2 separate regions of the Homo sapiens genome follow, and region 1 is linked to region 2. Evidence: fine-mapped expression QTL. A gene starts in region 2. The other region holds a variant in brackets. All regions are shown on one strand. Distances are from middle to middle.

Region 1 (5,388 bases), 86 kb before region 2:
ATCTACAAGAAAACCATTCTTATTATAAAGACAGATAGATTAAAAATAAAGGAATGGAAAAAGAAAGAAAGAGAGATAAAAATAGAGATGGATAAACCGTTCTAACACTAATCAAAAGAATACTGGGGGAGCCATATTAATTTCAGACAAACAGACTTCAGAATGAGGAAAATCTTCTGGGATTGAGAGGCACTCTGTAATGACAAAGGGGTCAATTCTCCAAGAAGACATAACAATCCCAAATGTGCCCAAGTCCAAGCTGAATGGAGAAACAGACAAATCCACTATTTATAGTTAGAAACTTCAACAACTTTTTGTTAGTAATTGATAAATCAAGCAGGCAGAAAATCAGTAAGGATATAGTTGACCTGAGCAGCACTATCAATCACTTCATCTAATTAACATTATAGATTATTCCATTCGACAACAGCAGAATACACGTTATTCTTAAGCCCACACAGGACATTCATCAAGATAAACCACATTCTGGGCCATAAGATACACCTTAGCAAATTTAGAAGAATAGAAATCATACAAAGGAATTTATCAGACCACAATGGGATTAAAATAGAAATCAGTAACAGAAAGATAGCTAGGAAATCCCCCTAATATTTGGAAATTAAACAACACACTTCTAACTAACACATGGCTCAAAGAATAAGGCTCAAGAGAAACTCAAAGATATTTTTGTTTTTTCATTTGTTTATTTTAAAAGGTATATTTTGATTATTTTAAAGCACTTTCTTATAGCCATTAATCAGAAAATATTATGAGCTGGGTTTGGTGGCTCATGCCTGTTATCCCAGCACTTTGGAAGGCTGAGGCGGGTGGATCACCCGAGGTCAGGAGTTCGAGGCTAGCCTGGCCAACATGGTGAAACCCCGTCTCTACTAAAAATACAAAAAATTAGCCAGGTGTGGTGGCACGTGCCTGTAGTCCCAGCTACTCAGGAGGCTGAGACAGGAGAATCGCTTGAACCCAGGAGGCGAAGGCTGCAGTGAGCCGAGATCGCGCCACTGCACTCCAGCCTGGGTGAGACAGAGTGAGACTCCGTCTCAAAAGAAGAAAGAAAATATTATTACGAATACCCATAATTGCATGTTAAATTGGTAATTTTGTTGTGCATTTTATATATTTAAAATAAAATGCTTTCCAAATAGAGATTCTCCCAATAGGCATTACTATCTGAACTCTTCCCTGGAATTCTCTCTCACCTTTCCCTGCTAACCTAAAACCTGTTCCATTTTCTTGGTTCACAACCTCCGTTGTTTCCACAACTTCGGCCTCACATTGCTCTCTGCATTTTTCTCTAAGCACGGGTAGTCAGCAAATATGTCAGTTTTTAAGTTATGCAGGCTCAACAACTTATCTTTTATGGGAAGTTTATAATATCTTGAACTAAATGAAAATGGAAATACAACTTATCAAAATTTGTGAGGTGCAGCAAAAATAGTGATTAAAGGGAAATTTAGTGCATGTGTTAGAAAAACAGAAAGATGTAAAACCAATAAGCTTCCACCTAAGAAACTAGAGCAAGAAAGACAATGGAGGAACAGAAGAAATAAAAATTACAACAGAAATCAATGAAGTTGAGCACAGAAAAACAATAGAGGGAATCAACAAAACCAAAGACTGGTTCTTTGGAAAGAACAATAAAATTGATAAACCTTTACCCAAACTACCCAAGAAAAAAAGAGGAGACACAAATTACCAATGTCAGAAATAAAAGAAGGGTTATCACTACTGATCACACAGATATTAAAAGGAGAAAAGAAGAATACTATAAACAACTCTATGCCAATAAATTTGACAATTTAGATGAAATGGACCAATTCCTTGAGAGACACAAACTACCAAAATTCACACAAGGATAAATAATCTGAATAGCTTTAGCTCTATTAAATAAGTTGAATCAATAATTAATAGCCTTCCAAGAAAGAAATCTGAAGGCCCAGATGTTTTCACTGGTGAGTTTGCCAACCTATACTGAAAATAATTTAGCAATATCTATCAAAATTTTAAATGTACATATCCTTTGGCTCAGGAAAATTTTCTTCAGGTATATTTATACATGTGGGATATGATATATTTCGGAGGTTATTCACTGCAATATTGTTCCTATTATCAAAGGATTGAAAACAATGTGAACCTCCATTGATAGGCTCCTTGTTAAGTATTTACGGCACATCCATACATGAAAATCCATACCACTGGGAAAAACGTGAATCATTACTCATATATCACTATGGCATGATTTCCAAAATACATTGGCACATGACAACAAAAGAACAATTTACAGAAACCATAAGTATAGTACATTATCATTTGTGTAATGAGAAAGTAGAGAAAAAAAATATATGCATGTATTTGTATGTCTATGCACAAAAAAACTCTGGAAAAATATATATGAAAGTAATATAACAATGCATACTTTTAGGCTGGGCGTGGTGACTCCACCTGTAATCCCAGCACTTTGGGAGGCTGAGGCAGGTGGTTTCTTAAGATCAAGAGTTTGAGACCAGCCTGGCCAACATGGTGAAACCCGTCTCTACTAAAAATACAAAAATTAGCTGGGTATGGTGGCATGCACCTGTAATCCCAGCTACTTGGGAGGCTAAGGCTCAAAAATCACTTGAACCCGGGAGGCGGAGGTTGCAGTGAGCCGAGATCGTGCCACTGCACTCCAGGCCTGAGTGGAGGAGTGTGACCCTGTCTCAAAAAAAAAAAAAAAAAAAAA[T/AT]GCAACAATGCATACTTCTAAGAAAGGGGAAAGGGTAGCTGAGAAACAGAGTCTAGGAGAAAAATTCTTTATTTCATATCCTTTAGTATATTTTGAATTTTTGAAATCTATATTTTACTTAAAAAAATGAAAAATTTTAAAAGTTACCAGTTTCCCTGCTTACCCGTCCCAGAGATTCTGATTTGGGGCCAAGGAATCTGCATGATTAACAGGCTCTCCAAGTGATACAGCAGATGCAAGAAGCACACTGAGAAACACTGACCCACATCATAGGTCCACATGTGAGAGTAATATAAGAGAAGAATCACAAAGAATTGAGGATTTAGGAGGGAAAAAAGAAAATGTAAGGATGAAGAGAGCCAAAGACAACATCCAGGTGCTGATCCCAAGAGTGGGAAACTTACAACATTGTCCTAAATAAGATGGAAGGGGAATTTTCCAAAATAAAGGACAATACACCCATTTAGATGTCATTGGAGACTGGTTCCTCTTACTGTTCTAGATACAATTTTAATGTGGATTATGTCATCAAAAAGAAATAGCTGACATTAGGCTGAGTGTGGTAGCTCACGTCTGTAATCCCAGCACTTTGGGAGGCTCAGGCAGGTCGATCACCTGAGGTCAGGAGTTTGAGACCAGCCTGGACAATATGATGAAACCCTGTCTCTACTAAAAATACAAAAATTAGCCAGGGGTGGTCGTGAGCACCTATAATCCCAGCTACTCAGGAGGCTGAGGCAGGAGAATCACTTGAACCCTGGGGGGCGGAAGCTACTTCACTCCAGCCTGGGCAAAAGAGCAAAACTCTGGCAAAAAAAAGGAAAGAAATGGCTGACATTACAATTGTTTTGGACATGTCAACAAAGTTCCTCTCCTTTGATTCCTCTTTTTCTCTAAAATTGCTGATTATGATCAACCTCTAAGTTTCAAATAAGCATATCTTATACTTTTTTCCTCTTTGTGCTTTCTCTCTCTTTCTCCTCCCAACCTCTTTTAAGCATATCTCCCTTCTTAAAAAGTTGTACTGGTAGTAGGATGGAATGATAGACACTAATGCACCCACAGTCTCTCTAATAACTGGGTTCATGCTGCCGACCTTCCTCCTAGAGTCTTCTCCTATCCCACACCAACCCACCCCATCCCATCCCATTCATTCAACAAATATATATTGAGAGCTTATGTTTCTGACACTATTCTAGGTACTGAAGATAGAGTTGTGATCCAGAAGATCTCTCCTCTTATGACATGTACAGTTTAGTGGGAAGAAAAAGACAAAAAGGAAAAGAAGCATAGAAATGAATTAATTATTTTCAGATAATGATAAGCACTCTAGGGAGAGGAGACACTTTAGGTTGGGGAGTCGAGGAAGCTCTCTCTGAAAAGGGGATTTGAGACCCGAATGATGAAAAGAAGCCATTCAAGTCAATTTCTGGGAGAAGAAATTCTAAGCAAAGAAACAGTGAATACCTACACCCTGATCTAGAACATACTTGTATTCTTAAGGAATACCAAGGAGATCAATGCAGCTACGGTATAGGAAACTAGGAGAAGGATACTTAATATATTAGGTTAAAGAAGTAGGCTGTGTGTATGTGTGTGTGTGTCACAGCTTATCTCTACACCATTTGATAGTAGGTCCGCTTATCCCCTTAATACCCCTGTGTGTATTTCTTAAGAACAAGGATATTCTCTTACACAACCACAATATAGTTATCAATGTCAGGAACTTTAATATTGATATAATACTTTTATCTAATCTACAGTCTGTATGCTAACTTAATCAATTTAATTCTACTAATGTTCTTTAGAGTATTTTTTCTTGGCACAGGGTCCAGCCCATAATCACAGATGACATTTACTTGTAGTGTCTCTCTAGTCTCGTTTAATTTGAATCAATTCTTTAGCCTTTTCTTGTCTTTTAAGACATTGACATTTTAAAAGAATATAGATTAGTAATTTTATGATATTGAAATAGTTGCTTCAATTTGGATTTTTCATCATTCTTCTCCTTTTTTAGGTTAAGATTCACTTACAGAGCACTTACTATGTGCCAGGCCCTGTTCTAAGTGCTTTGCAATTATTAATCCTCATAACAAGCCTCTGAGGTACACATTATCATTATTTCCATTTTTCAGATGACAGCCCTGAGGCAAAGAGAGAGTAAATAAGTCGCCCAAGGTCACCCGACTTGTAAGCAGGGATTTGAACCGAGGCAGCCTGGTTCTGGAGCCCTTGCCTGTAACCTTCTTCCTTCTCAGTAAACTCCAGCCACACTGGCCTCCTTGCTTTCTTCAACATGCCAGGTATTCTCCCACCTCAGGGCCTTTGCACGTGCCTTTCCGACTGACTTGAAAACTTCTCCCCTAGCTATCTTCTCAGTGATGCCCTCACTTTTTGGGGAGTCTCTGTTGAAATGTCACCACCCTATCTAAAGTGGCCCACACTGACATACGTTGGCCTTCAACACACACCACCTGACCTATTACATATTTATGAATGTGTTTATTTACTGCCTGTCTCCCACGCCGAAATGTAAACTCCAGTAAAGCAGGGGTTTTCGTCTGTTTTGTTCACTGCTACAGTTTAGAACCCCGTAGACTACCTGGGAACTTGGGTAGGTAGTAAATAAACAGTGGTGAATAAATTTAACA
Region 2 (5,388 bases):
TCACTAGTCTGCCACAAAGTAAGTATAGAACTCAAGAGTAAGCACTTAGAAACTTCTGTCTCCTAGACAAAAAGCAATTCTGTCTAAGAGACTGAGAGCAAAATAGACTTCACAGAGGAGGTCAAAAGCTCAAGCTCTGTCTTACACGAGGTTGATGGGGGGTAGAAATTCCCTGAGCAGATGATGTTGGGAATGGTACTCAGAACAGCCACACACAGGGAGACTGTGTGTGAGTTAGAAACATGTGCCCCCTCTGAGTGGATGAATTTGAAAATGTGCCCCCACCCCAAAGGATGTGACCTCAGGCCAGCATCCAGGGCTTGGCCAGCAGTGAGACTGGATTCCAACCCCACCCCAACCATCTCAGCTGGGTGCCTTTGAGCAGTACAAAAAACCCAAACTAGTCAACTGACAGCATTGGACCAGGTATGCAGGTCAGAAAAGTCTGTCTGAAGGTGAGGCTGCAAGGAAAACCAAGGCTCATTCAGCCAGCTGCAAGCCCTCCTTATGCTGGAGCAGAGATAGACAAAGAGAGAAGCAACGGGAGAGGTTGGCTCTGCCCCCACAGGGCTTCCATCCCGAAAGGAGGAATCTAGACATGGTCTGTGTGTGAAGAGCACTGGAAGGAGAGGCCTGATCATCAGTGAGCACTGCTGTGCTAGGCCCTCTTGGAGCCCGAGACAGAAGGAAACGTGTGTGTCCCTATATGCGCTTATCAAAATATCTTCCCATGCTTTGAACCAAGTGGAAAAACGTCATTTAAAAGTCTCCAATCAAAAAATTAAGCCTCAGCCGGGCACGATGGCTCACGCCTATAATCCCAGCACTTTGGGAGGCGGAGGCAGGTGGATCACTTGAGGTCAGAAGTTTGAGACCAGCTGGGTCAATGTGGTGAAACCCCATCTCTACTAAAAATACAAAAAAATTAGTCAGGTGTGGTGGCATACACCTGTAATCCCAGATACTAGGGAGGCTGAGGCAGGAGAATCGCTTAAACCTGGGAGGCAGAGGTTGCAGTGAGCCAAGATCGCACCATTGCATTCAAGCCTGGGCAACAGAGCAAGACTCCATCTAAAAAAAATAAAAATAAGAAATTATATATATATATATATATATATATATATATAAAGCCTCCTTCCCCCCATCTCCCTTTCTTCTCTCTTTTAAAACAAAAATAAAAAGGCCAGGTACAGTGGTTCACACTTGTAATCCCAACACTTTTGGAGGCCAAGGCAGGATGATTTGAGCCCAGGAGTTCAAGACCAGCCTGGGCAACACAGCAAGACCCCCATCTCTACAAAAAAAAAAAAAAATCTAATAAAAATATCCAAGAGGCTGGGCATGGTGGCTCATGCCTGAAATCCCAGCACTTTAGGACGTTAAGACGGAAGGATTGCTTGAATCCAGGAGTTCGAGATCAGCCTGGGCAACATAGCAAGGCACCGTCTCTACTAAAAATCAAAAAAATTAGCTGGCCGTGGTGGCACGTACCTGTGAACCCAGCTACTCAGGCAGCTGAGGCAGGAGGATTGCTTGAGCCCAGGAGGTTAAGACTGCAGTGAGCTGTGATTGCACCGCTGCACTCCAGCCTGGCAACAAAGCAAGACCCTGTCTCAAATATTTTAATAAATTTTTTAGAAAGTACCCAAGAATGGTGGCACACACCCATAGTTCCAACTACTCGGGAGGCTGAGGTGGGAGAATTGATGGGGCTTGAGAGGTTGAGGCAACAGTGGGCCATGATGGTGCCACTGCACTTTAGCCTGGGCAACAGAGCAAGATGCTGTCTCAAAAAAAATTTTTTAAGCCCTCCCTTTCTTTCATCTTTCTTCCCTCTCAAAATACAAACAAACTATATATATGTGTGTGTGTGTGTGTGTATGTACATATATACATATATACATATATGTGTGTATATACACACATATACATATATGTATATATGTATATATTATATATACACATATATGTGTATATGTGTATATATGTATATATTATATATATACACATATATGTGTATATGTGTATATATGTATATATTATATATATACACATATGTGTATGTGTATATATGTATATATTATATATATACACATATATGTGTATGTGTATATATGTATATATTATATATATACACATATATGTGTATGTGTATATATGTATATATGTATATATATACACATGTATGTGTGTATATATGTATATATGTATATATATACACATGTATGTGTGTATATATGTATATATACACATATATGTGTATATATGTATATACACATATATGTGTATATATATATTGCCCAATTTGTTTGTACCCCATTGTCAACCCTCACAGATCCATGGCAGGGACACAGCAGCCACATAAGCCCAGGATCCAAAGCCTGATTGGAAACGGCTCCTCTCTTGCAGTAACGCAAGGTCGTAAAACAAACCAAACAGCCTGCTTTTATAAAATTTTGATATGTTGTTTATCATGGGCTTTTTGGTATTGATTTTGTTTTAAAAAATATTGTGGTAAGGCAGGAGTGACTGAGGCAAGTATTAGAGCAGGAATGAAAGTTTATTAAAAAGTTTTAGAGCAGGAATGAAAGGAAGTAAAGTACACTTGGAAGAGGCCAAGCGGGCGACTTGAGAGATCACCCACTGGACAGTCTGACCTTTGACTTACGGTTTTATACGCTGGCATGCTTCCGGAGTCTTGTGTTCCTTCTCCCCTGACTCTTCCCTTGGTGTAGGCTGTCCACACTTGCGCAGTGGCCTGCCAGCACCTGGGAGGGGAGCATGCGCAGTGTGTGGCCTGCCAGCACCTGGGAGGGGAGCATGCGCAGTGTGTGGCCTGCCAGCACCTGGGAGGGGAGCATGCGCAGTGTGTGGCCTGCCGGCACCTGGGAGGGGAGCATGCGCAGTGTGTGGCCTGCCAGCGCCTGGGAGGGGAGCATGCGCAGTGTGTTTGTACGCATGCAGGAGTTGTACACATGCTCACGTGAGGCGTTCTTCCCTTATCAGTCGAATGTCCCTAGAAGGTCATATACCAGTTAAACTCTGGCATTCTGCCTGTTAGTGCTCATGCTTGAGTACACTCGCCCAACTGCTAAGATCTTACCGGGAAGCTGCTTATCACCCGTTTCAGGTGTTTTCTATCTACTGGGAGCCTGTCTTTCCCTAGCACCGGCTGCGACCAATTATTATTTTAGAGCGACAGACTAACAGCCGCCTGACCATCACCTGATGGTCACCTGAGGTTCCTGCTATTGGAACAGACCCTCTCCTGCCCTGCTCATACCTGACAGCTACCTACTGTAACACACCTAGGCAGATAAAGATGAGATTGTGGAGTTCCAACAGAAGCAGACATTAGGGAATGAGCTGAAAGGTGGAGGTGGAAGTTGTTCAGGGAGATGAGATTGCGCGGGGTACGTAAGAAGAGAGCCTCAGTAGGCTTCGCGGTGGAGCAGGCTGTCCCATCTCCAGCGAAGCTCCCCCCATGCCTCTGTCTCCATATGGAGTTCCACTGTTAACCCTGGGCATCTCCAGCAAGATCCCTACGGGGAGAGGGAACGCATCTGAGTACTGTTTGCAGAACCACACACGACAGCTCTGAATGAATAAGCCAAGACAACACCCCGAGATTCTTCCTGCGGATTTGGGTTCCCAGGCCGGGAAGGAGCTGTTGGAGCCTGCATGGAAGATTAGTGGATCTGCAAAAAGACAATGTGGATGACTGGCCGACGCCTTGTCCCAACCCTGTCCAAGCAGAAGAATCGCCGGGATACTTGCTCTGGATACAAATTCTTGGACCCTGACTCAGACCAACTAAATCAGAACCTCTAGGAGGCCTCCAGACACTGCATTTTTAACAAATTCCCATGTGATTTTTAACGCAGTATAAGTTTAGGAAGCGCTGCTCTGTTGACAAGGAAAGGCTCTGGTCTGGTTTGTAGCAGACTGTCCAGGCTTTCCCAATTTGGTCCAAAAAGGCAGAAAGTGATTGGCTTGAGAGGGCAGAATCAATGGAAAAAGTTTATGAATTCCTGCCCCTGGGAACATTCGTCTTTCACTTTTCATCTTCTTCCCCACCCCCACCTCTTTGGGGTATAGTCTTCCCCATGCCCCAGTTCCACATCTGCTCTGACCTGGGGTTCCCACCCAGCCTCCATCCAGAACACGCTCACCCTGTTTTTGTAAGAGAAAACATTGTCAAAATCAGCTTATGCCTGAAAATTCAAGAAGATAAATTCCTCCTGAGCCCATTTGCTGGCATTCTCATCTGTTTCCAGTTTGGTGTATATCATCTGAAGGGTCCTTGTTCATCCATTTTGGTTCAAGTCAGTTTAGAAAAGAAATGCACTTTACACTGGGCACAGTGACTCACGCCTGTAATCCCAGCACTTTGGGAGGCTGAGGCGGGTGGATCACTTGAGGTCAGGAGTTTGAGACCAGCCTAGCCAACGTGGTGAAACCCCATCTCTACTAAAAATACAAAATTAGCCAGGCATGGTGGTGGGCACCTGAAGCTACTTGAAAAGCTGAGGCGGGAGAATCACTTGAACCCAGGAGGTGGAGGTTGCAGTCAGCCAAGATCATGCCACTGCACCTCAGCCTGCGTAACAGAGTGAAACTTCATCTCAAAAAAAATTTAAAAAAGAAAGAAAAGAAATGCGTTTGGAACACAATGCAATCGATCTTTGGAGAAAATCCATCTAAAATGCTTCTCTTATTGTTTTTGGGGGTTTTTTTTGTTTTGTTTTGCTTTGGGGTGTGCTTTTCTCTTTTCTCATATTTAAAGTTTGTTCTTGTGTGGTTCTCCTAGGAAACAGCACTTTCCCAAGCTTGACAAAGAAAAGCCTCAGGGAAATAAATTGGGATGTGATGAAATGTATTCAGCCCAAGAAGTAAAAAATTCCTTTCCTTTCTTCCAAGCCTCGGGCTTGTAAGTTGCTTTTATCACACTGGATTTAAGTGTTCTTATATGGAAACACACACAAAAATCTGATGGTTGATCAGCTGAAATTCATCAAAATTATTTGAAGACAAATTGGCATTCAAGACACCAGAATAGACAAGAGAAGAACCTGAGGGCTGTGTTCTCTGAGTGAAAGGACATCATTCTAATTAGCCTGTGACAAAAGAAAAAAAAATACCCTTCTCCCAAAAAGTTTATTCATTTTACCCATGTGTACAGGCACTGTCCTAGGCTCAGGGAATACTGAGAAAAACAGAACAAATTTCTGTCCTTCTAAAGCCTATATAATAGAGAAAAACACACAAACCAACAAATAAATCTAAATTCGAAATTTCAGTACCCTGAAGACTTACCACTATGGGAGCCCAGCATTAAACTGCCTGCTCTAGCCGGGCACGGTGGCTCACGCCTGTAATCCCAGCACT

Which allele goes with the higher level. Alleles are on the strand shown, and positions count from the first base shown. SD is a standard deviation of normalised expression in the study named.
In carriers of allele T in region 1, the expression in monocytes after LPS of the gene that starts at base 2,746 in region 2 tends to be lower than with AT alone (moderate effect, 0.68 SD a copy in Quach 2016).

Evidence for each region. PIP is the estimated chance that this variant, and not a neighbour inherited with it, causes the effect. A credible set is the group of variants that fine-mapping cannot tell apart.
Region 1: its variant is the best candidate, but not a certain one, in a credible set for the expression of GPRC5D-AS1 in monocytes after LPS (Quach 2016, PIP 0.59).

What each region holds. Positions count from the first base shown.
Region 1 is chr12:13,010,965-13,016,352 of GRCh38, reverse strand. The region is part of intron 2 of GPRC5D-AS1 (GPRC5D and HEBP1 antisense RNA 1); the gene reads right to left. Among named protein-coding and RNA genes, the nearest start is that of HEBP1, 13 kb to the right of the region's middle. The variant T/AT (reference allele first, on the strand shown) is at 2,738.
Region 2 is chr12:12,925,084-12,930,471 of GRCh38, reverse strand. GPRC5D-AS1 (GPRC5D and HEBP1 antisense RNA 1) reads right to left here and starts at 2,746. Exons shown (of 3, transcript NR_149067.1): 1 at 2,669-2,746.